4 linked regions of the Homo sapiens genome follow. The protein of the gene in region 1 interacts with the protein of each later gene in a pairwise test. Each region holds a gene or a part of one and is shown in the gene's direction. Other genes may lie near its edges. The genes, in order: GOLGA1, CEP57L1, KIAA1328 and EFHC2.

Region 1 (7,035 bases):
AAAATAGGAATTGTAGATGACACCTAGGTTTGGTTTGTATAACTCAGAGTTTCTCCACCTCAGCGCTATTGACGTTTGAGGCCGGATGGTTCTCTGTTGTAGAGGTTCTCTGTTGTGGATGGTTCTCTGTTGTGGATGGTTCTCTGTTATAGAGGGTCTCTGTTGTGGAGGGTCTCTGTTGTGGATGGTTCTCTGTTGTGGGTGGGTCTCTGTTGTGGGTGGGTCTCTGTTGTGGAGGGTTCTCTGTTGTGGAGGGTTCTCTGTTGTGGAGGGTTCTCTGTTGTGGAGGGTCTCTGTTGGGGATGGTTCTCTGTTGTGGAGGCTCTCTGTTGTGGAGGTTCTCTGTTGTGGAGGATCTCTGTTGTGGATGGTTCTGTGTTGTGGAGGGTTCTGTGTTGTGGAGGGTTCTCTGTTGTGGAGGGTCTCTGTTGTGGATGGTTCTCTGTCGTGGAGGCTCTCTGTCGTGGAGGCTCCCTGTCGTGGAGGCTCTCTGTCGTGGAGGGTCTCTGTCGTGGGTGGTTCTTTGTTGTGGAGGGTCTCTGTTGTGGATGGTTCTCTGTTGTGGAGGGTCTCTGTTGTGGAGGGTCTCTGTTGTGGAGGGTTCTCTGTTGTGGAGGGTCTCTGTTGTGGAGGGTTCTCTGTTGTGGAGGGTTGTCTGTTGTGGAGGGTTCTCTGTTGTGGAGCGTCTCTGTTGTGGAGAGTCTCTGTTGTGGAGGGTTCTCTGTTGTGGAGAGTCTGTTGTGGAGGGTTCTCTGTTGTGGAGAGTCTCTGTTGTGGATGGTTCTCTGTTGTGGAGGGTTCTCTGTTGTGGAGGGTTCTCTGTTGTGGATGGTTCTCTGTTATGGAGGGTTCTCTGTTGTGGAGGGTTCTCTCTTGTGGATGGTTCTCTGTTGTGGATGGTTCTCTGTTATGGAGGGTCTCTGTTGTGGAGGGTCTCTGTTGTGGAGAGTCTGTTGTGGATGGTTCTCTGTTGTGGAGAGTCTCTGTTGTGGAGGGTCTCTGTTGTGGGTGGTTCTTTGTTGTGGGTGGTTCTCTGTTGTGGATGGTTCTTTGTTGTGGGTGGTTCTCTGTTGTGAATGGTTCTTTGTTGTGGATGGGTCTCTGTTGTGGAGGGTTCTCTGTTGTGGATGGGTCTCTGTTGTGGATGGGTCTCTGTTGTGGAGGGTCTCTGTTGTGGATGGTTCTCTGTTTTGGATGGGTCTCTGTTGTGGAGGTTCTCTGTTGTGGAAGTTCTTTGTTGTATTTGCTGCAAATATGCATGATAAGATGCTTAGGAGCATCTACCCACTAGATGTCAGTAGCAGCCCCACTTAGGACAACCACAGTGTCTCCAGACATTGCCAAATGTCTTGTGGGGGCAAAAGCACTGCTGGCAGAGAACCACTGGGGTAACTGAATGAATAGGGTACGTACCATTCACTGAGATGGGGGTCCTGGGAGGTATGTCAAGAGTGGATTCCATTTTGGGCATGTTGAGCTTCAGAGGCCTACCCAACAGGCATATCTAGTAGTCTGTAGGCTGACAAGTCTGGAAAATTGGAGCAGATTCTGAGTAGACATATAAATTAGGAAGCCTGTGTGCCTATAGTTCCAGCTGCTTGGGAGCCCAGGAGGCGGAGCTTGCAGTGTGCAAGATCGTACCACTGCACTCCAGCCTGGATGACAGAGCAAGAACCTATTTCAAACACACACACACACACACACACACACACACACAAAACTTTAAATTAGGAAACCATCAATCAGCATAGCTCATAGGCAAAATTACAGCCAAATGGCTATCAATGAGTGCAGATAGAAAAGAGGCCAAAATGAAGGCCAGGGCCACACCCACAAGCACAGGCTCAGAACAAAAGGAGGGGCCGACAGAGAAGACGCCAAAGGAGCCGCAGGTAGGGTAGCAGTAAAAGCAGGTGCATGTGGGGCTCTGGAAGTACAGGGCAGAAAGCGCTACAAGAAGGATTGAGTAGTGAACTCTGTGATATGCTGCCAACTGGTCAAGAAAGGAGACAAAGAGCTGACCATTAGATTTGACGAGACTGAGTTTGTTGGCAACGCTGGGAAGAATAGTCACCGTAGAGTCGTAGGGAATATGGTTGACGAGAGCAGGTTAAAATGAGACTAGAGAGATGCTTCCACTTGCAGTAAAGGCAAACTAGGTAATTCAGACCAGCTCACCTGAGGACTCCCAGAAAAACTGGCCAAAATAAGAGAACATCTGCTTGTAGGAGCCTACAGGACTGAGGAATGGCCCATCCTGCCCAGGGACGGGAGTCCAGCATGCAAAGCAGCTTTTGCCGTGGTGGTATCTGCTGATCCTGAAGAGGCTGGAAGTTTATCTAAGTTTTTCATAGTTTCTCAGAGTTAGGGGAATAAAATTTGGAGTTTAAATTTTATTAAAGCTTGGATCCAGCCTGGGAGATCCTGAAAGCTTTGGTTAGGCACACCACAGGACTACACGCTAGGAGTAAGCTTGAACGGGAAGTAACCAGCACCCCATCTGCACCCCGCCCCCAGCTTTGATTGCACTAACTGAAGGACACGGGGTGGCCCAGGAAAAGCCCATTAGCTAATTTTGGATTAAAATGATCCCAGGTTATTAGTGCTCCTGGGTGACTAGAAAAAACAAAATCAAAGATAGGTAAACAAAAATACAAAACAACACAAAAGAAACAGACTCACAAGGGCTCAGATATCATATGCTTACTATGTTTAAGGAGATAAAAGACAAAATTTAAAATTTCAGCAAGATGTGGAATAGTTCTATTATTATAGTTATGATAAAAGACAGCAGTTTTAAAAAAGGAATCAAATAGAACTTTAGACCTGAAAAATAGAATAACTGAAATTAATACAATAAATTACAAAAGGACAGGAGGAAGCTTTCTGGGGGATGGGTATTTTTACTATTTTTATTAGGGTGATGGTTTCATCACAGTTCATCAAGGCATACACCTGTAGTCCCAGCTACTCAGGAGACTGGGGCAGGACGCTCTCTTGAGCCTAGAAGGTCGAGGCTGCAGTGAGCTATCATCACAAACTGGACTGCAGCCTGGGTGATAGAGCAAGAACCCATTTCCAAAAACATAAAAATTTAAATGTAAACATATAGAAAACTCTTATATGTTTACATTTAAGAAATACACTTTCTTTTTTTTTTTTTTTGAGATGGAATTTCTCTCCTGTTGCCCAGGCTGGAGTGCAATGGCGTGATCTCGGCTCACTGCAACCTCCGCCTCCTGGGTTCAAGCGATTCTCCTGCCTTAGCCTCCTGAGTAGCTGGGATCACAGGCATGCACCACCACACTAGGCTAATTTTGTGTTTTCAGTAGAGATGGGGTTTCTCCATGTTGGTCAGGCTGGTCTCGAACTCTCAACCTCAGGTGATCCGTCCACTTTTGCCTCCCAAAGTGCTGGGATTACAGGCGTGAGCCACCATGCCCAGCCTGAAATACACTTTCAAATAACCCATAGGTCAAAGAAAAAAATCACAATGGAAATTTTAAAATATTTTGAAATAAAGTTGGGCACAGTGGCTCACACAGTGAGCTGAGATTGTGCCATTGCACTCCAGCCTGGGTGACAAGAGCAAAACTCTGTCTCAAAAAAATAATTATAATATTTTGAAATAAATGATTTTGTAAATACTGTGGATCAAAATTGGTCAAGTATAACTAAAGCAGTGCATGGAAGGAAATTTCAGTCTCAGTGGCATCTCTTAGGAAGAAAGCCTGAAAATTGAGCCATGTATGCATCTCAAAAAGTCAGAAGAAGGCACAAATCAAACTCAAGGAAGAAATAACAAATATAAGCACAGAAATTAATGAAATAGAAAATAAAATGGGCCCGGCGTGGTGGCTCACCCCTGTAATCCCAGCACTTTGGGAGGCCAAAGCGGATGGATCACATGAGGTCAGGAATTCAAGACCAGCCTGACCAACATGGTGAAAGTCCATCTCTACTAAAAATACAAAAATTAGCTGGGCATAGTGGCACATGCCTGTAATCCCAGCTACCTGGGAGGCTGAGGCAGGAGAATTGTTTGAACCCGGGAGTCAGAGATTGCAGTGAGCTGAGATCGTGCCATTGCACTCCAGCCTGGGCAACAAAAATGAAACTGTCTCAGGAATGAAGTGAAGAAGGGAGGGAGGGAGGCTGGGCGCAGTGGCTCAAACCAGTAATCCCAGCATTTTGGGAGGCCAAGGCAGGTAGATCACCTAAGGTCAGGAGTTTGAGACCAGCCTGGCCAACATGGCGAAACCCGGTCTCTACTAAAAATACAAAAATTAGCTGGGTGTGGTGGCACATGCCTGTAGTCCCAGCTACTCGGGAGGGGGAGGCAGGAGAATCGTCTGAACCCAGGAGGCAGAGGTTGCAGTGAGCTGAGATTGCGCCATTGCACTCCAGCCTGGGAAACAAGAGAGAAGCTCCATCTCAAAAAAGAAAAAAAAAAACAAAAGAATGGGACCCTCTCATAGTAGCGAGGACTGCTGAAGCCTGAGGTGGATTATTTGAAGGTGAATAAAATCGCTAAGCTCTGGGTGAGACAGATCAAGGCCATATTTAGTTTAACAGTCTACTTGTTCCATCAGCTACTAAGAAGGGTGTGCTCAGTCTTCCACTACGATGGTAGATTTGTCTCTTTCTTCCTTTAGTTCTGTCTGTCTTTGCTTCATGTATTTTGAAGTGCTGCTATTAGGTGCACATACATTTAGAATTGTTTTTCTCCATCCACGCTCTTCAAAGCAGCTGTTCCCTAAGCCCATCCTGGAGAATCATCGCAGAGGCAGCCGTGCATGGGTGGCCTGGTGGCTTCTGCAAGCTGCAGGCCCTGCTTTGTGCCACAGTGAACCTGAGCAGGCACTGTCAACCCCACCTCCCACAGTGCTGGATCTTAGGTGGCTCTGAGGCGCTAGGGCAGACTTTGGAGCCACAGAGACTCAGTTCTGTCTTGTCAGCCTAGCCCCTCACTAGCTGATGCTTGAAGGAATCCATTTTCCTGCAGCCTTGACCTCCCGGACACAAGCAATCCTCTCGCCTCGGCCTCCTGAGTAGCTGGCACTACAGGCATGTGACACCATGCTCGGCTAATTTTTCTTATTGTTTATAGAGACAGATCCTCACTGTGTTACCCAGGATGGCCTTGAACTCCTGGGTTCAAGCGATCCTCCCACCTCAGCCTCCTGAAGTGCTGGGATTATTGGTGTGAGCCACCGTCCCTGGTCATTACTTCTTCTTCTTTCCATAACCAATTGTTCCAGTCCCCCACTCCATTCACGTGGCCTGCGAGTCTGACTTCTTGTTCTTGGCTACTGTCCTTAGACCAGCTCTTCAGGATAGGCCCCTAGCCTTGGTGTGGGTCCTGGCGGGGGTGCTCGTGGGGCAATCGATCCTCAGTGGTGTGCCATTTCCAGAGAAGTCGGTGGGTTGCCTGCCAGGATAGCTCTGAGAGGGATACTGAGGGCATGGCAGGGAGGGGCCAGGCTGGGAGCCTGGGAAGTGGGGAGCATGTTGGTCTGGCTCTGCAAAGCCATGCCCTGTCTGCTGGGCTTCTTGCGTGGCATACAGCTAAAAAACTGTGAACTAAGTTTTGGGGCTCAGTGGTTTTCTGCATTGTAGGAAGAATGGAGCCAAAGAGAAATTGTGAGCGTGGCCATGGCTCAAGCCCTGGAGGAGGTGCGGAAGCAAAGGGAAGAGTTCCAGCAACAGGTGGGCCCTGTTTCACGCTGAGGGGCGATGTCCCCCTGCAGTCCCACAGGCAGCAGGCCCATCCTGCCGTGAGACTGTTGGAGAGGGCCTGTCTCTCCAGGGTAGGGTAGTAGACTCAGGACTCAGGGAATGCAGTCAGCTGCGTGGGCCCCTGTGCTCTCTAGGAAGCTGGGAGACAAATGTTATAAAGAAACTCTTACCCCATAGGATGCCCTTTTCTGATTTTTCAACTATAATTACCTGGAAAGTGGTCCATGTCCACGGGCCTAGTGGGCTCTAATTCTGTGAGGTGACCTATCATTGCCCACCTGCCCCAGAGGCCACGTAAGGTTGGGTTGAGTTTTTGCAGGAAGTATGGGAAAGCCTCCCTTGAAGGTAGACTTTGCATCTGACCCCAGAGCTTCTAGTTAAGTGGCTTTAGGCCTTTGGTAAGTCCTTAACAAATCTGAGTCTCCTCTGATGAGGACTCTAGCCTTCTACTTACACCTCTGGGAAACTATTCTGTAATGAGGCAACATATATCAAATGCGTGTCTAGTGCTGGGGATGTTGCAGGCACTCAGGAAATGGAAGTTATGACAGCTTGTTGGGCTGGGCAGAATGGCCACGTCTCTGGTTGACCCACTGTTGGCCAGGGGGCAGTGGGAGGCGACTGCCCCTGTGCAGGGCCCCTACCAAGGAGAATAGATTTGTGCATGTTCATAGGAGCAGAGCTTAGCTGGGGGTTTGCTCTGGGTCGTGGACTTCAGGGAGGGATTCGTGGTGTACCCTGGAGAGCGGGGAAGTGGAGATTTCTGTGGGAAGATGGAGTCACTGCTCACAACCTTCCCTCTTGTTGATTTTTCTCTCCAAGGCAGCTAACCTGACAGCCATAATAGACGAGAAGGAACAGAATCTGCGGGAAAAAACCGAAGTGCTTCTCCAGAAAGAGCAGGAGATTCTCCAGCTGGAGCGAGGTGAGGAGTCGGTCCCTGGCTGAGCCTTCTCTCCTTTTCAGGCCCAGCATCCTGCCTTGTGACGGCCTTGCCACCAAGCAGCATGGAGTCACTGGGCTCACAGTGCCCCCTCCCCTCCTCCCCGACCTAGGTCACAACTCTGCCCTGCTGCAGATACACCAGCTGCAGGCCGAGCTGGAGGCCCTGAGGACCCTCAAGGCGGAGGAGGCTGCAGTGGTCGCGGAGCAGGAGGACCTGCTGAGGCTGCGGGGCCCATTGCAGGCCGAAGCACTCTCAGTCAATGAGTCGCACGTAAGTCCCAGCTGCACCTGCATGGGTGCTACAGCAAGATGCAGGGCAGGTGCCGAGAGTGCCCCTAAGGAGGCAGCAGT
Region 2 (7,274 bases), on another chromosome or scaffold:
GGGTTTGTAGCCTAGAAACAACAGGCTATATAACACATAGCCTAGGTGTGTAGTATCTAGGTTTGTGTGATTTCACCCTATGATGTTCAAACAAATATGATACCACCTAACGATGCATTTCTCAGAGTGTATCACCATCATTAAGTGACACATGACAGTATCGCAGCCAGGTCTGCCAAACTCCAGAGTATGTCCTCTTAAGCTATTCACGCCACCCTCAAACTGTCTGCCCCAGCCATATTGCATTACTTTCAGCTCCTAGAACTCATCTGCTCTCCTTGGCATGAGGCCTTCATACATACCGTTCCCTATGTCCGGAATGTCCCCTCACAAATCTCACCTTTACATGGGTAATATTTATTCATTTATCATGTCTCTGCTTAAATGTCATTGCCTCAGGAAAGCTTTCCCTTACTATCTAAAATTAAATTTTATATTTGTTTACTTCTTTATGGTCTGTTTCCCTTTGGTATGATGTCAAAATTGTTACCACTGGTCCTCAGTTCTCAGAATGACATTCAGCAGGAGTTCAATAAACATTTGTTGCATAACTGCAAGCATAAATGAATGATGCTGGGGTGGAAACTCCCTAAACTGAAAACTTCATCTATTCAGACTACTGATGAAAAACAGAAAGAAAGTATAAATTTGTTCATCCACTGGATATTTATTTAGTAGCTTCCAGGTCCCAGCCAGTACTCTTAAGAACTCATAGCCTTCCTATGGGAGACAGACACAAAAGCATGTGCTTATAACACAATATAAGTAAATTGCCTTTTATAATTGTACAATAGATGCAGAGATGGAAAAAAAGAGTATAAGTCTATAGGGAACCTTCCCAGGAAATTCCTGAGTCCTTTTGCAGGATGAAAGAGTCTTGAAATATATATTGCATAGTCTATGTATTTCACTTATGAAAGGGAGAGGAGCATCTACTATATATACCAGAGTACTTTACATCTGATTTAATTCCCACAAGAGCTCTGTGTTGTTATTCCCATTTTACAGATGTGGAAATCCAAGCTAAGAAAGGTCAAGGAATTTGCCCAAGGTTACAGGCAAGGACATTAGTAAAGGAGTGGAATTTGAGCCCAACTCTGACTCCAGTACCCACTTATTTATCATTATATTGAAATCCTTTGATACTATGCTCCCCAGAGCCTGCTTACTTTTATTTTCAATATAACTCTTAACACGATTGGTTATCTGGTTTCCCATTCTAATATGAATTAAGCAGCAAAATGAAAGATCAGGAAGAGACCAAAGTCAAGTATCCTGACGGCAAAGGAAAGAACAGAAAAACTATAAAAATTACACACAAAAATACAAAAACTAATGGATCATATAGTCAGTCCTCCACCCTTTGCTGCACAACAATAGTTGATATGCATAATGATGACCCCATTATGGACAAAAATGGTTGTTACAGTCACTACAGTCTAGAAGATAGAGAAATAACTTTTTGTGTTTCAAAGGGTAAACTTCAGTTACCTAGTATATTAATTCCTCTCGGGTAACTCTGAATTGTAACAATTGTTTCCAAAGTGTTAGTGAGAAGAAATATCCCAAGATCTTAAATAGAGTCTTCATTTTGTGGATATTATTTTTCTGTTGCTTTAAACTAAATTCAAGCCAGTATATAAAAACTGTCACTTTTAACTTACATAGTTACCCAAGTACATTTTAAATTTTAAAAATCTCTCATACAGGACTTTGGACAACACACGTGGATTGAGAAATGTAAAGATTGACAAGCATATATAAGGTGTTGCTGAATATTGTCAATATCTAAAAACTTAAAAAAAAGTATTCTAAGACACCTTGTAATAAAACAGGATAAATTATGAACGAAATGGAGGAAAAACTATAATATTTTTAACCTGCTGCACTCGTATCTTAAATAGCTACACATGTGAAAAAGAAACAATTCAGGCAAACACAGAGAAAGCTAGTTGAGCAATTTGCCATAAAAGTGTTTCTATCAAATACCCCACCTGGGTCCACCTTTTCAACATGAAGATATTAGCTTCTTTTAAGATAGGTTTTTATTATTTTATATAATTCTCTTCTTGAAAAAAGAGAGGTTGCATTTAGAGAACACATCCTGGTTTGTTTTGTTTTTAAAAATAAGAGAAAATTGTTCCACCAATTATCTTGAACAGGCTGACTAGGAAACATTTAATATCCTTTATCATTTTAGAGGCTTTTAAATGTGAGCCTTTACACTCAGAACACTGTGACAATGTGAAAAAAAAACACTGGCTACATTTTCCAACAACATGTAAAAAGAAATATAAGGAAAAACAAGTATTTACTTGGAATTAACTGTAGTTTTCATATATTCTTCCAGGAGCAAAGCAGTTTCTGCCTAAAACTCTAGAAAAACACTACTTGTTTACTTACAGAACACTCTAAAGATGTAAACTCATAATAAAAGTTTACATAACAACCTAATAGAAACAAACACAACGTGAATAACGGCAAGTAAAATTTAACTGTAGTAGAGACATAGTTGTATTTAAAATGCTCTTCCTTACCTGGATGCTCTTCAGAATAAACTCACTTTTCTCTCTCACATCTTTGAAGGGACACCTCTTAGAAAGCATAAGCAGATGAGCAAGTAGCTTATTCAACCCATCCGAAGACTCGGTATTTGAAAGCCCGTCTGATGGACGATGAGGTGTTTCTTTCACCGAACGAAGATACTCGGTTTTCCTCAAAATGGTTTGCCTAATGTTTTCCAATGCTGTCTCCCTAGTAGTTGAATCTCTGCTGCAGAGTCCATCCCATCTCACTTCATTCTCTCCTTCAGCCATGACAATAGTTTTTCCTTTGCGGTCTTCAGTTACCTTTCAGCATGCCCCAAAAAAATTGCTTTGTATTTTTAAAATGAAAAATGTAAAAATAAAATCAGAGAAATCAAATCGTCATGAAAACACACATCTGGGTGACATTTGGAACCACTGGTGCCTTCAGCCGATCTACAAGCTAGGTCACCCTCTCACCCTCTCCTTGTACACGAAAGGGCAGTCTTCTTTCTGGAAAAACAAAGTTTGAAAGTTGCAACCTTGCAGCGCTGGCTTTGGTGGGCAGAGAATTTCGGGGAAGCGTTCTCCTCCGTCTCGCGGGGTCAGTGGATATCCTCACGTTGTGGAGCTGTCAAATCCGTGCTCTGCCCCAAAAGGCTGTTAACAGCTGAACGCCCTCCAGCCATTCGGGGCTTTTTTGTCTGTGCAGCCACCGGGTTCTCTCCGGCGTTCCCACCCCGCCCCTTCTCCGACACCAGTCCCCGCCCTCCGCAGCTCCTCCCAGCGCCTCAGCAGCCGGCCGGCGCCGGCAGGGAAGGCTCGCCGAACCCTGGCCCACTGGCCGCAGCGGCCGGAGGCTTGGGCGCTGTCGGAGGGCGGCAGTCTCGGGCAGCCGTAGTCTCGGCGGGCGGCGGTGAAAAAAAGCGTCCCCCAGCCCCGCCAATTCGGCACCCCCGGGAAGACGCTACTTCTCCGATCCCTGAGCCCTCGCCCACCACCGCCGAGCCAGAGGGCACAGGGCGGCCCTGGCAATCCTCGAGCGCCAGGCTGGGCCGCGGAGCTGGCGGGGCGGCGGGGCCCGAGGCGCAAAGCCCGCCCTTCGCCCAGCCCCATCGGTGGGGATCAGCCCAGAGGGCGGGAGCAGGGAGTGGAGACGGGGTCCTCACCCCCAGCCCCTCCCCTTTCTCCGCCCGGCACAAACCGGGAGCCGCCCCGGCCCCAGCGCCTTCTTCCCCGCCCAGGCAGACGCGACCCGCCGAGGCAAAGCCTTAGGAAAAAGCCCCGCCCTCTGGCAGGCTACCCTCCGGACCCCAAGTGCGCCGCGCGCGGCTGCCAGCCACTGCCGGCTGCTACGCATGCGTGACTGCGAACTGGGCCAAGCGCCCCCGGAGGCGCTAAGCTTGCGCCCTGAGGCGGTTTCCGTTCCCGGACGTTTGGACTCTGTCCTGGAGAAGGGGAAGGAAAAAGTAAGACGTAGAAGTACACTGAGACTTCGTCACACATAAAACAAGCACGACAAAGAAAGAGGGCGCGAAGGGACTCCTGGAAGAAATTGAGTCTACATTTAAGATCACCCTAAAAGTAGTGACGGCCTCTTCATTACTCCAAACCCCAGATTTAAGTCGGTAGGACGTCTTCGCGTTGACTTGTGGGGAATGTAGTTTCGATGCTGCCGGCGCGTTTTGTTTGCGACAGAAACTACAACCCCCAGGGGCCACCGCGACGTTGCCTGTGGGTGCCCGCGAACCAACGGTTAGCGGTGGCAGGGGCTGACTGAGAGCGTCTGCTTGGTAAGCACTGTAAGCTGGGTTGTCACCTTTCCTTGACAGGGTTTTTCCTTCCTCCATTTCCTCTGGGATTTTGGAGACAAAGCCATCTAGGGTGGCCTCCCTTAGTCCAAGGACTTTTTCCAGTGACTTGCGTGGGAAGGACTAGTCCAGCTGCCCAAGCGCGGGGTGTGGTGGGTGAGGCAAGGATTTGGGATCCTGATCCCAAGGGTCGCAGGGAGCGGCCTAAGTAAGGCCAAGAAGGAAGGATGCTGTGGAAACTGGAGCTTCGCGCTGCTGCCTCTGATTCCGCCCTTTTTTGTGGACACACGCGGGGTGGATTTGGGATCTCCGCGCATTTGCACCTTTGTTTGCCTTTGCTTAGGGATGTTCTGGGCTTTATTTGCTCAGTCAAATGAAATCCTAGGCAGGGCTTTGAAAGCAAGTTGTCAAATCCATCTCGTAAAAGAATCCCCAGTATTCCTAGATAGGAATTCTTGCAGGCTTTAAGGATACAGCAGGAAAAAGAAAGCAAAACCGTAAAAGTCTCCAAAACTTAGTCGACTTTTTCAAAAGATTCAGTCATTTGCTTAAAATTAGTTTGCTTTTAAAAAGTTATTATTTGAGAAAAGTCGAGGTTTGAACGGCCATCAGTGGACTGATAATCGGTGTAGATTTTAATTCTTTACATTGCAGAATTGCATTGCACTAAATTCTAAAAATTTCGTCTTGCTAGGCACTGAGTATACAACAATGAAAAAGACAGTCTTACTAGTTAGAGGAACTAGTTGTTAGACATACGGTTACAATAATACATGATATCACTGGGATGTCTAGAAGGAGATGACTTAGCCCAATCTTGGAAAGTCAGGGAAATCTTCATCCCAGGGGAAATGAAGACCAAAAGAACAGCATATGCTAAGGCCCAGAGTGAGAGATAGGGTACTTTCAGGAAACGTCAGTAAGCCAAATCATGCATACTTGGCGGTGTGGGGTGGGACGGGAAGGGTGCTTTTTGTGTATTGATGCACTTAGAAGCTACAAAGAGACAGGTATTGTGAATTCTTTACATCGTTTCTGTAAGTGAGCTATTTTTGAATAGATGCATAGTTCTGATGAATTGGTCTAATTTCAAAAGCCTTGTTACATTCTGACACTTCTAGTTTGAATCTGAATTTTAAAAAGGGAATAACTTATGAGTGTGATTGAAAAAGCAAAACAAAAACCATTCCGTTTTCATCTCCTTTTTGGGATCTTCATTCTCTATCCAGCCCATAAAGGGTCGGGTAGTTTCTTAAGGCTGGGTGCCTTTTTATGCCGTAGTTAAATATGATCTCATGTATACCCATGGCTTCACCAACACCTATGACTCTCAAATGAATAGCTCCATTCAGCTTCACCTCTCAGCTTTCACAATATCTCTTGGATATTTCTTCTTGGATATCTCAAAAGCATCTCAAACTCAACATACCTAAAACCAAATGCATAGTTATCTCTTATGAATCTAATTCTTTTTCAGTGTTCCTTATTTCAGCAAAGGACACTACTATCCATCTACTTGTGAAAATTTGAAAGCTAAACATTATTCTTTATTTCTTCTTGCCCTTCATACTTCTATGGCCAAATTATTATGAAGTTCTGCCAACCTTATCTCTCAAAATATCCTTCAAATATATTTTTCTCTCCACCTGTCTTCAAACTGCGATAATCTCTCAAGACCACTACAGTAGCAATTATTCACAATGACCCTCCTCCATTAGTTCTCCATTATATCTGCCAGAATGATTTTTTGAAACTGCAGATTTGATCAGATTTTCTCTTGGTTAAAACTATTCAGTGGTGTCCTACTACTGTTAAAGACAAAACTCCTTTATAAAGCCTGACATCATCTGGTACTCTTTCAGACTAACTTCATATATTGCCCTCCAGATCAGCCATACAGTCCATTTTTCAGTCATTGGTTCTCATATTCCATTTCACCCACGCGTTTACTCAACAAATCTCTGTTGAGTCCCTTTTATATAACAGGACATTGAAGATACAGCATTGACCACAATATATAAAAATTCCTACTGTCATAGAGCTTGCATTCTACTGAGGAGAGATAATAAATAAATATGTAAAACACTTAGTAAATGAAATGAAGACAAATGCAGTGGAGAATAAAACAACTGGGAAGGGGAATGGGGAGTGCCAGGATGTGAGGGGCAAGGTTCACTTTTAAATAAGGTTGTTAGAAAAGACATAATCCAGAAGGGGACAATTGAGATATGAAGTAGGGGAGGGAATAAACCATGTAGATGCCTGGGCAAATAACATTCTAATGAAGAGAATTAGTGCAAAGGCCTTGGGCAGAAGCCTGAGTGCGCATTTGAGAAATAGCAAGAAGGCTAGTGTGGCTGGAGCACAATGAGTACAAAGAGGAGAATAACATGAGGTCACAGAGAAAGGAAGTAATGGTAGGAGAACATGTAGGTGACTGAAAGGACTAACATTTTTAATTGGGTTGGGAAAGCATTGGAGAGTTTTGCGCAGATGAGGGCATGATCTGACTTTTAAAAAATGACTACTTTTCTCTCTCTCTCTTTCTCTCTCTCTCTCTCTCCCTCTGTCTCAACGGAGTTTTGCTCTTGTTGCCCAGGCTGGAGTGCAATAGCACAATCTTGGCTCACTGCAACCTCCACCTCCCAAGTTTAAGTGATTCTTCGTCCTCGGCCTCCCAAGTAGCTGGGATTACAGGCATGCACCACCATACCTGGCTAATTTTGTGTTTTTAGTAGAGACAGGGTTTCACCATGTTGGTCAGGCTGGTCTTGAATTCCTAACCTCAAGTGATCCACCCACCTCAGCCTTGCAAAGTGCTGGATTACAGGTGTGAGCCACCGTGCCCGGCCTCTTTCTTTTTTCCTGAGACAGAATCTGACTATGTCACCCAGGCTGGAGTATAGTCATAGCTCACTGCATCCTTGAACTCCTGGGC
Region 3 (7,035 bases), on another chromosome or scaffold:
CCACTCTTCACAATAACTCAGTAATTTTCAATCCTATCTGAACATTAGAATCACCTATAGAACTTTTTTAAAAGGAGAGGAGAGTGAGAGAGGGAAGCAAATAATATCCAGGTCCCACCCTAGACTGATTAATTCAGTTTCGACAAGTGGGTGAGACTCAGTCCATCGCTCTTATTAAAAATTCCCCAGATTATTTAAATGTATTGCCAAGCTGTGAATCACTGCCTAAAATCAGCATCTTTTCTGAGAGCACCACTTCTATTAGAGGCCATTCTTTCTGTCACATTTGATAAACAACAGAGAGAGGAGTGCCAGCATTTTTCTTGCATATCTCTTTATTTATGTGAATCTAAATATATGTCTAGTTTTACTGCAGCAGTCCATCCTTTTCCATCCTTTGTTTTCCATCATTATCTCACTAGGACCTTGACGTCCCACTTAAAGTCACTTTCTCCCCCATAACTCCTACCATCATTCTGTGAGATCCCAATATCCATATGGTTGATGTATCCATTGCCATAGCTAAAGAATTTCTGCGTTCCTCAATTCACTCCAGCATCATCCATGGTGACACCCAGAGCTTGCTATCACCCACCATGGTTTCATCAGAAAAATCATTGACTCTGCCATCCCAGCCTCTTTCTTTACAGCTTATATTCTCATGTTTATCACATACACCATACCAAGGGTTTTTATATTTCTGGTGTTGTTGCTGTTTTATTTTCGCTTTACCTTAAAGGGATATCTAAATTATTTATTTCCCCTCATTTTTCTGCCAGTCTTTTCAGTCCCTGTTGCCTCACTTTCTTCCTGGACCGAATGGTTGACCTATACTACATTAATATATTTATTTCCCTTGACCCCCAGTCTGCTGCATTGTCCCAGTAAAAATCCTAACCCTAGATTGAGCTCTCACACTGCTTTCTCTGCTTTTTAATCTCTGCACTTGAGCCCTGCTACAAATGGATGATTTCTATTTCTGTTAGGGCCTCAACATTTCAGGAAAATCTTTTTCTTTTCATTTCTATTTCGAATTCCCTCAATACATACTCCAAACCTTCACCTCTCTTCTCAATACCTGCTTTACTCACTCACAAGAATGACTGTATCTCCTCCTACACCAAGGAAATTGAAATTGAAGCATATTCTTTCTCAACTCTGCCTCCCTCAACTCTACCACCTCTAAACTCACTTAGCCAATAGCAAAAAGCCATGGAGTTACTGATCAAATTACTTTCTTGAAATATCTTCTCAGATGTTCCATAAGCATCTCAAGCTGCAGTTAATTTTTCCCACCCTTCCCCAATCCTCCTCTGTATTGCTTATCAACCCAAAATTCTGGCAGTCATTCTTGACTTTTCTCTCCCTCTCTCTTACATCAAGTTCTACCCTTTTTAAATCCTAAATATTTCTTAAACTATGTCTTTCCGTTCCTACTACCGCTTCTCTATTGCAAACCTTCATCTCTCACCAGAGCTGTTTCAGCAGCCTTCCAACTCATCCAGTTTCTTGAAGCCCATTCTCTAAATGGTGCCAGAGTAATTTTTCATAAATTCTGGTTGGATCATATCATTTTTCTCCTGAGAGCCTTTCAGTGACTCCACCTTGGCCACAAGATAGAGTTCAAGCCCCTCAGCATGGAAAACGCAACCTTTCATGATCTGACCTGCCCTGTCTTACCTGCTTCATCTCCGTTCCTCCCTACCACACACCCAAAGTTTAATGCTGTAACAATACCTAGCTATTTAACTTTCCCAAAATATGAACTGAAGTTTCATTTGTTGGTATATTTGCTAATACTTTTTTATTTTACCTAGAACATTCTTACATTTTTCCTTATCTTTCAAGGTTAAGTTTGAGTATTTCAGGAATCTCTCTTCTGTTATGCAAATAAAGTTAGGTGCCTTGCCCTTGCACTCTCATAACATCCAGTATATTCCTGAATTACTGCATTTGGCATATGGTATTAAAAATTCTGTTTCCACGTCTGTCTCCCCCACTAAAATCTCTTTAAGAATAGGAACCAGGGCTGGGCCGGGCTCGGTGGCTCACACCTGTAATCCCAGGACTTTGGGAGGCCAAGGCGGGCAGATCACCTGAGGTCGGGAGTTCGAGACCAGCCTCACCAACATGGAGAAACCCCATCTCTACTAAAAAATACAAAGTTAGCCGGGCATGTAACAAAATTACAGGCATGGGATTGCATGCCTGTAATCCCAGCTACTCGGGAGGCTGAGGCAGGAGAACCGCTTGAACCCGGGAGGCAGAGGTTGTGGTGAGCCGAGATTGTGCCATTGCACTCCAGCCTAGGTGACAAGAGAGAAACTCCGCCTCAAAAAAAAAAAAAAAAAAAAAAAAAAGAATGGGAACGAGGGCTTTCTCATGTTTGTATACCCAGCACCTAGCATAAAATAAGTCCTCTGTAAATGTTTGTTTTCCATTTTGCCCAGCCCAGTCTCACAGTACATATCAGGCCCATAAAGTGTGTTCTTCAGTCAATATCTGATGAATATATAAGTGAATGATTGATTAGGAAATTTATTAAAAAGGAATAAGGAGAGCAGAAGTTGAGACAACTGAGATTTCTTATGAGTGACTGGGAGGATGGTGATATCATTAAGTGAGAATGGAAACAGAAGGAGGAAGTAGTTTCAAGATAAAGATACTGGATTGCTTTAGCAAGAGTTGGTTTGGGAGGCAGGAATAGACATCGCTTTACAGCTTTTCATCAGATACTTGATCAGGTCAGCAGTTTTGGCAAGCACTGTGAACTAGAAGAATCTGTTTAGAAATCGTACTTGCAGATATAGAGGTGTGGCAAGGATCACCAAGAAAGTACTAAGAGGGAAGAGGACAGGGACAGACTTTTGCAATGTCTGCATCTAAGGGGAAGGAAGAAGTCTCCTAAAACCAGAAAACCAGTCAGGATAATGTGTTATGAAGACCAAGGGAGAAAACATTTCAAGAAAAAATGTTTTCTTGAATTTCTTGAATTTCTGTAGGGTGATCTAGTAACAAGCAAGACTGTTCAAAGAAGAAAGGCCTTTTGATTTGTTCTTTAAAAACAAGTTCTAGTCGGTATGTCTGTTAGAATAAATTATTGTTTTCTAGACGTTCAGCAGACAAGGAGAGAGGAGATGGTAATGGAAGGGACATGGTGAGAGTTTTTTGTTTGTTTTTAAATTATAAAATGCATGCCTATTGGAAGAAATTAAAACATTCAGAGTTATATAAATTAAAATATAAAACTCTTCCCTCTATTTCTTCTACTCCCTTCTAGTTTGACATTTATCCATCCAGAACTTTAAAAATATTTTTGTATATTTTTATTTTTATAAAAATGAGATCACATTATATACTCTATAATTGCAAATTGCTTTTATTTTAATAGCATGTCATGAAGTTTCTTCTCATCAGTGTAAAGAATTACCTCATCCTAGCCAAGTGTGGTGGCTCACACCTGTAATCCCAGCACTTTGGGAGGCCGAGTGGGCAGATCACGAGGTCAGGAGTTCAAGACCAGCCTGGCCAACATAGTGAAACCCCATCTCTACTAAAAATACAAAAATTAGCCGGACATGGTGGTGTGTGCCTGTAGTCCCAGCACTCGGGAGGCTGAGGCAGGAGAATCACTTGACCTGGAAGGTGGAGGTTGTGGTGAGCAAAGACTGCGCCACTGCACTCCAGCCCGGGCAACAGAGTGAGACTCCTCTCCAAAAAAAAAAAAAAAAAAAAAAAGAATTACCTCATTCTTTTTAATGGCTGAATAGTGTTCTTTATAATTAATATGTACCATAATTTATTCATTCTCTTATAGAATGATATTTGCTTTCAGTTTTTCACTATTACAAATAATTCTCCAGTGATTATCCTTAAACAAATATTCTCATGCTGTTGTTCATGTAATTCTGCAGGAGAAATTCCTTTTTTTTTCTTTCTTTCTTTCTTTCTTTTTTTTTGGAAACAGAGTCTCACTGTCTCCCAGGCTGGAGTGCAGTGGCATGGTCATATCTCACTATAAGCCCAAACTCCTGGGCTCAAGCTATCCTGCTGCCTCAGCTTCCCAAGTAGCTGGAACTATAGGCACATGCCACCATGCCTGGCTAATTTAAAACAATTTTTTTTCTTTAGTGATGGGGTCTTGCTGTGATGCCCAGTCCGATCTCAAATTTCTGGCCTCAGGTGTGGGATAAAAGTAGAACTGTTGAAAGAGGGATGCATTTTCATTTTGTGTTGACAAGTCACTCACAAAAAGGTGATACCCATTTGTGGTTCCTGCAATAGGTATTAAAGTGCTCTTGTCCCCACACGCTCACTGACACTGGGTATTAATGGAGGATCTGCTCTTGTTTGTAGCCCTAGGAAAAAATCCAGTTTAGAGGAGGAGTTTGTGAGTTATAAGAAAAAGAGATGATTGACAGGCCATAGTCACAGAGGGGATGGGTCAAGATGGTATCAAGAGTGCAAATAAAAGGTAAAATTTTTTGAGACATGAAGAGAGGAATAGTAGATGGGTGAATATGGAAATAAATACAAATGAAGGAAGAAATTTTTCATATAGTCATCTTTATTTTAGGGAAATTAGAAGCCAAGTTTCCAGTTGTGATGGAGGATTACCAAGGTGGAATTTTGAATAAAGGTACAGAAAAGCTTCTGTGAAAATGCTGTAAAGAAGCAGAAGGCAGTCAGTATTGGGAGTCTGGCTGAGCTGAGAATGAATCAAATTTGGGGAAGCCAATGGTTGGGGTCACATTCATTTTTCTACAGAACAAGCAGAGATGTAGTCACTGGATTTGCCTGGGTTTGGGGCCTCTGGGTTGACGTAAATTTATATAACATTCACAATAAGGTACTTTTATTTTCCGTATTTCCCTGTTCCGTGAGTGCAATTTGTATAACCCTAAGTTATACATCTTCTGGTGGGTCTGAGAGGAAAATGGTCTCTGTGTTCTGATTTAAAAAAAAAAGAAGAGTATCACTTTTATACATTTTCTTGTGCCTACTTTATAAAGCCATATAACTAATGATTTTATTTTCTTTATATAATTCTGAACATAAAGCCATTTACTTTCTTGGTTTTTGTTAATAAATTATGATATGAGCAAACACTGCTAAAAATTCTGATCGATATAAACCAGAGACATTTATAGAAGATTATGTGATTTGAATCCTGGTCAAAGGCCACCTGGAGTAAGTGATAGACCTGGCAACACTCCATTCAGCTTGTTCTTGTCTAGAGATTCCCTTTGCTTCTGGGGAGTTTAAACGTTTTAATTTTAGAATCTTGTTTTTTGAGTAGCTGCCTCTATGCATTTCCATGTCTTTTTCTTTAATTTTCACATTGTTTATGGGCATGGGGAAGACAAAACCAAAGTGTCATGAGTTTGTTGTGAACAAACACGAAGAGGGAAGAGTGGAATAGTGAGAGATAACACATCATTAGAATATTTTTCCCTAAAATAAGAAAATATTATAAGAGGAAATATGCTAATGGTGGGAACACGGTTTATTAGAGAAGAAAATATGTACATGTGTTCATTTTCATTAAAATGCCTTTTATTCTATATTTGTCTTGTTGACCTTTTAATGAAACTATGTAAGTATGGAGTCTAGTTCTTCTACGTGCACTGTTACACTACTCCTTACGTACTCTGGGTACATAATAAATACTAATAACAATTGAAAATTAGAAACACAAACGCGTTTGTGTGAGGCACATTGGTGATATTTTAATCCCTAGTGTTCATTTTTAGTACTTGGAAAACATCTTAGATATGCAAGTCCTGTTTTAGCATACTTTTTATTTCTATAGATAGCCTGGTTCTTAGTCATATTCTGTGACTTTATTAGCTGTTTCATCAGTTTGAATCTTATTTCCCCAACTCCCAGTGTAAGCTTTTTGAGAATAAAGGCCATTTCTTTTCCAAAATTGTTGTGACAGGACACAAAATAGACGTTGAGTAAATTATTTAAATTATACCTCAATAAAAGGTAAGATAAAGAGAGTTCTTAATGAATTGCATTTCAACCCATACTGAATTTAAATATCTATGTGCTCTGTGTTCCCTTCTGTGCCTTCAACAGTTCATTCATCGTTGTTCTTTCAGTTTATTGAAGTCAAACTGTGATGGCTGGCTGCTTGGAACATCATCATCTATTAAAAAGCACCAAGACCCCCCAAACAGTGGAGAGAATAGGAAGGAGAGGAAGACAGTTGGGTTTCATTCGCATATGAAAGATGATGCCCAGTGGTCATGTCAAAAGAAAGATACATGTAGACCCCAAAGAGGTAAGTTTAACAACTGTAGTGGCAAAATGAGAAACTGGTAGGGGAAGGTAGTTGCTAGCCAATGAATTTCAGATGATTTCCTACAATGCTGAGCAAAAGTTAAATGTTTACACACTGAAGTGTGCCTGCAAGGCCACAGGTAACACATTTACTAGATTAGTGAATTGTGTCTGTGTTTTTCTTAGAATACTGGAATGAAAAACTGTATCCAACTTGTCCCTCTTTTTGCAAGCAATAACTGTTAAGAATTAGTCAGCAGTAAGTATGGTCATAGACTAAAATAATGTTCCAAGTGAGTAAAGAGGGCAAGATATTGAACATAAATCTCTCCTGGAAAAATAAACCCTAACAACTACAGTTAATCCTCAATTGACTGGAAACATGGGGAGGGTGGAGGAGAGGTCATGGACAATTCCCCATATTGTGACTAAAGCAAAACCTCACAAGTCTAAAGCATTTTTTGCCTAACAGTCTTTTAAGTGTCAATAATACTTCCTGTTATATGTGGTAGACTTTAAAGAAATCAATTATAAGTAACTATGTTAAATGTTGAGTGAAGCAAATTTATTTGTTTCCCAGTTGTTCCTGGAGAGGCTTTTGGCTTAATCTTTCCTGGCATCCTTAAAGGAACGACTTTGGAAAAGAATGGAGCAAGTCTGAGCTTTATTGTACAGAAAAGATGTACAGGAAACAAAAGACCAAAAAGACCTCTGAGCCCTCTCCTGCTCACACCTCTTTCCTAGTGT
Region 4 (4,336 bases), on another chromosome or scaffold:
ACCTTATTTGGAAATAATCTTTGCAGATATAATTAATTAAAATGAAGTTATGCTGGATTAGAGTGGACCCTAAATGCATTGATTGGTGACTTTATAAGAAAGCTGCGTGAAGACATATTGGTATACACAGAGAACACCATGTGAAGTTGGAGGCAGACGTTGGAGTGATGTGCTTACAAGCCAAGGAATGACTGCCAGCCACCACCAGAAGCCAGGAGAGAGGCATGGAATAAATTCTTCCTTAGAGCCTCCAGAAAGATCCAACGCTGCCAACACCTTGGTTTTGGACTTCTGGCCTTCTGAACTGTGAAAGAATAAGTTTCTGTTGCTTTAAGCCACTTACTTTGTGGTACTTTGTTACGGCAGCCCCAGGAAACTAATAACAGACACTGTCAACTATTACTGAATTTAGAATTCTTAGAACCATCCTTACCTGTATTAGTTTCCTAGTGATGCCCTCACAAAGTACCACAGACTGAGTTGCTTAAAACAATAGAAATTTATTCTTCCACAGTTCTGGAGGCTAGCAGTTCAAAATCTAGGTGTCAGCAGGGCCATACTTTCTCTGAAACCTGTGTGGGAATCCTTCCCTGCCTCTTCCTAGACTTTGATGGTTTTCTGGCAATCTTTGGCGTTCCTTGGTTTGCAGCTGCAAACCTCTAATCTCTGCCTCTATGGTCACCTGGTGTTCCCCCTGTGTGTCTCTGTCTTTACCTGGCTGTCTTTTTATAGGGAGGCCAGTCATATTGGATTAGGGGCCCACCCTACTCCGGTATGATCTCATTTTGCTCATCTTAATTTACCTAATTACATCTGCAAAAACCCTATTTCCAAACAAGGTCACATTCTGAGGTACTAGGGATTAGGACTTCACATAACTCTTTTGCATGAGGACACAACTCAACCCATAGCACTACACCTTTCTTTTGTCACCATTTCAAGTTGATCCCCTTCTAGCTATTTCATGTTCTCCTGCAGCAGCATCTCTCAGAGTAGCTCCTGTCCTCCATGCCCGCTTCAGCCACCCTGGTTATGGCACAGTCATTTTTCTGCGGTATTATAGTACTCACCTCCAGATTGATTTTCTTACTTCATGTCATTCTCTGTACATCCAGCAAGTTAGCTAATCAGTTTCTAATCAGATTTCTGTCATTTCCCTGGCCAAGACCTACCAGTGACTTCCCCTAACCACAGCCTCAAGTATAAACTAGCACAGAAGGCCAGAAGTTTGGCCCCAGCTTCTCCTTCTAACCATCTCTCTTGCCACTTTGCACCATGTGCCGCAAACCACACTGGGCTACTCACCCTTTCTTGAAAATAGATTTTAGATCTCCAGGCCTTTGCTTACGCTGGTCCCTATGCCTGGAATACCCTTCACAACCCTAAACCCTCTGCTGAACTGTTTTTCATCCCATAAGGTGCAACTGAATCACCACTTATTCAGCTTGCTTCCAAAATTCCATCACATCAAATTATTGAGCCTTTACCTATGTTTCTGTGACACCTTGTGATTCTGGATACTAATGTAACACTAGTAAAGATATAGAACCTCTTATATACAACAATTAACCTTGACAGTCATATTTTAACCTTGAAAGTAGAAATATAAGCAACCATATGTATGAACTTTGCCTCCTGTTGATATTAATTAACCATTGAGGCATATGCAAAAAGTTTGTGTGTGTGTATATACACGTATTTATGTATTATATAAAATGTGCATCTGTGTGTGTATATGTGTACACACACACACACAAATAAAGTGGCTTATCTGCAAGATCATACTGTGAGTGATCCAGTGTTCTTTTCATTGTTTACTGAAGAAACAGTAACCAATCAGCCAGTATAGATACCAGTTTGTATTTTAAAAATTGGGTTCTTTAGGCAGCAGTTCACGTCTGTAATTCCAGCACTTTGGGAGGCTGAGGTGGACATATAACTTGAAGCCGGGAGTTTGAGACCAGACCAGTCCGGCCTATATGGCGAAACCCGTCTCCTAGAAATACAAAAATTAGCCGGGCATGGTGGCATGTGCCTGTAATCCCAGCTACTCGGGAGGCTGAGGCATGAGAATCACTTGAACCCGGGAGTTGGAGGTTGCAGTGAGCAGAGATTGTGCCAGTGTACTCCAGCCTGGGCAACAAAGTGATACCCTGTCTTTAAAAAAAATAATAAAATAAAAATAAAAATTGGGTTCTTAAGAAAGTATAGGAGGATCTATCAGCGTATTCATGCTGCATAACAACTCCTTAAATTTCAATGGTTCACAACAAGACACATTTCTTTTTCTTGTCTATGGGCATGTAGGTCAGTGAAGCATGGCTGGATTCAGCTAAGCTTGGCTCTTAGTCCGCAAGTCCAGCCTGGTCTGATCCACCTTGGTCATTCTAAGAACAGCAGCATCCTGGGCCATGTTCTTTTCATGGTGATGGCAGAGGCACAGAAGGCCAAGCCAAATGATGCCAGCACGCTAGAGCCTCTGTCCATGATATGTCTGCTAATAGTACATAGGTCAAAGCCAGTCATGTGGCCAACCCCATATCAAAGGAACAGGAAAATATACCCTTCTTACTCCACAGGAGGTTCTACAGAGTCATATGACAAAGAGTGTGGGCACATAATTCTTATACAGGGAGGGAATGAAGAATCAAGAACAAGTATCCAGTAGACCACAAAGTCCTTATGAACCTAAAGTAGATGGTAGAAATTTTCACTTTGCAAATAAACTGGTGTTGAATTTTCAAAACTGTACTTTGAAATGTGGTTCTAATCATATCCATTTTTGGTTTTTTTCTAGAGATGTGAAGATGTTTGGCTTGGTATGCCATCACCTATTCCTGCGAAATACATTGACTACTGGACCTTTTTGAAGGACGCGTTTGGCTTAGAGGAGGAATAACCATGCCAGTTTTGGTCAATTCTCTATGATTTACTTCTCTCATTTTGCCACATTTACTTTAGTAGATATAATTTCATTAAAAACAAAAAAGAAACAAGGTTTATATTAAATGGAAATCCATAAACCACAATTAATCCTATTTTGTCATGTTAGTTTTACAGAACATCATGTTACATTGCCGACGTACTGTTACTATTTAAAATGCCATCTTAAAACATGTTGAATATTTTTATTATATGTATGGTTTATTAATACCAAAAAATCTTCTGATAATTTTTGATCCAACATAATTTGATTCATTACTATATGAACAGAAAATGACTTTTGAAGGTTATACATGACAATACAAAATCAAATTATATCACAGCAATAAGTTGTGATTCTATTAAACATTTTTGAAACCTTTTTGACACGTTTATTACTTACATAATTAAGTTTTGTAGCAACCCACCTCATCAAAATAATTCTTAAACCTCTCTAGAGTAAATATATTTATCTTTTGAACTTAGTAAAGCTATGGGAAGAAAAAGAACCTCCAACACACACACACACACACACACACACGCACGTGCACACACACTGGAAACATATGCAGTATTTATATTTGTAATGCCCTTTTTTCTATCTAAAGTCAGCTTGTTAGCTTAGGAATATATGCATGTGTGTATAATTATAGTTTGACCAAAACTTTATTATGTCTAAAATATTTACAAATGTGAAAGCTGAAGATTTTGAGATTTTTGTTTTTTTTTTGGTTTGTTTTACACACACATCCCACGCGCCCCACCCTAGAGGTTTAAATATTCAGAAACTACAACATTTTTCCCCTGCATTTTTCTAGTTCTATTTTTATTTTTCTTCAGCAGAACTCTTGTCATGTAGTGTACATTTGATTAAAACCCATAGCCATGTACCTCTGGGAATTCAGTGTAAGAAGTCTATCCCAGTCTATGCCATTGTTCAGTGTTGGATGCTATGTATCATAAATCCATTTGCCTGGTGTTCTGGGAGACAATGGAGGTCTCAAAAAGGAGCTGCACCATTTACCTTTCAGGGACTACCCTGAGAAAAAGAAGAGCTGATGACATCTCAAGGGACCCTTCGGACTCATTATTCTTTCACTCCACATTTGCAGCAGTGTCTTGCTGGCTTCTTGGCACTCAAATGTACCAATTTATTCTCCACAACAATGGCCCTTTCATTTTTAAAAAATTGGAGTTAATCAATAAACGATTTCTATATGTAAGCCTAGGATAATTCCACATGTGCTATTGTTAGAATAGACGCTCCTCCCAACCCTTTCAGGACTTAACACTAAACTAGTATACTCAATTTATATACTAAAACTATCTACCATAAATCCTAAATTTGACTACTTGATTTTTGTCCCAGGTTTTTTTTAAGGCAACTGACAGTGCCAAGCCATTTTGTCACTTT

What was found.
Region 2: the proteins of GOLGA1 (region 1) and CEP57L1 interact in binary tests that used the Homo sapiens proteins (3 or more experiments, as listed by UniProt).
Region 3: the proteins of GOLGA1 (region 1) and KIAA1328 interact in binary tests that used the Homo sapiens proteins (3 or more experiments, as listed by UniProt).
Region 4: the proteins of GOLGA1 (region 1) and EFHC2 interact in binary tests that used the Homo sapiens proteins (3 or more experiments, as listed by UniProt).

Annotation. Positions count from the first base shown.
Region 1 is NC_000009.12:124,889,063-124,896,097, reverse strand, and holds part of GOLGA1 (golgin subfamily A member 1), read left to right. Parts: intron 1-5,619; coding exon 5,620-5,709; intron 5,710-6,561; coding exon 6,562-6,664; intron 6,665-6,794; coding exon 6,795-6,955; intron 6,956-7,035. UniProt on the Homo sapiens protein: Involved in vesicular trafficking at the Golgi apparatus level. Involved in endosome-to-Golgi trafficking. Mechanistically, captures transport vesicles arriving from endosomes via the protein TBC1D23.
Region 2 is NC_000006.12:109,091,258-109,098,531, forward strand, and holds the start of CEP57L1 (centrosomal protein CEP57L1), read left to right. Parts: upstream 1-4,249; 5' UTR 4,250-4,318; intron 4,319-7,274. Other genes in the region: SESN1 (sestrin-1), read right to left, coding at 2,538-2,816. UniProt on the Homo sapiens protein: Centrosomal protein which may be required for microtubule attachment to centrosomes.
Region 3 is NC_000018.10:37,154,093-37,161,127, forward strand, and holds part of KIAA1328 (protein hinderin), read left to right. Parts: intron 1-6,084; coding exon of another isoform or gene 6,085-6,107; coding exon 6,108-6,289; intron 6,290-7,035. UniProt on the Homo sapiens protein: Competes with SMC1 for binding to SMC3. May affect the availability of SMC3 to engage in the formation of multimeric protein complexes.
Region 4 is NC_000023.11:44,147,358-44,151,693, reverse strand, and holds the end of EFHC2 (EF-hand domain-containing family member C2), read left to right. Parts: intron 1-2,797; coding exon 2,798-2,899; 3' UTR 2,900-3,822; downstream 3,823-4,336. UniProt on the Homo sapiens protein: Microtubule inner protein (MIP) part of the dynein-decorated doublet microtubules (DMTs) in cilia axoneme, which is required for motile cilia beating.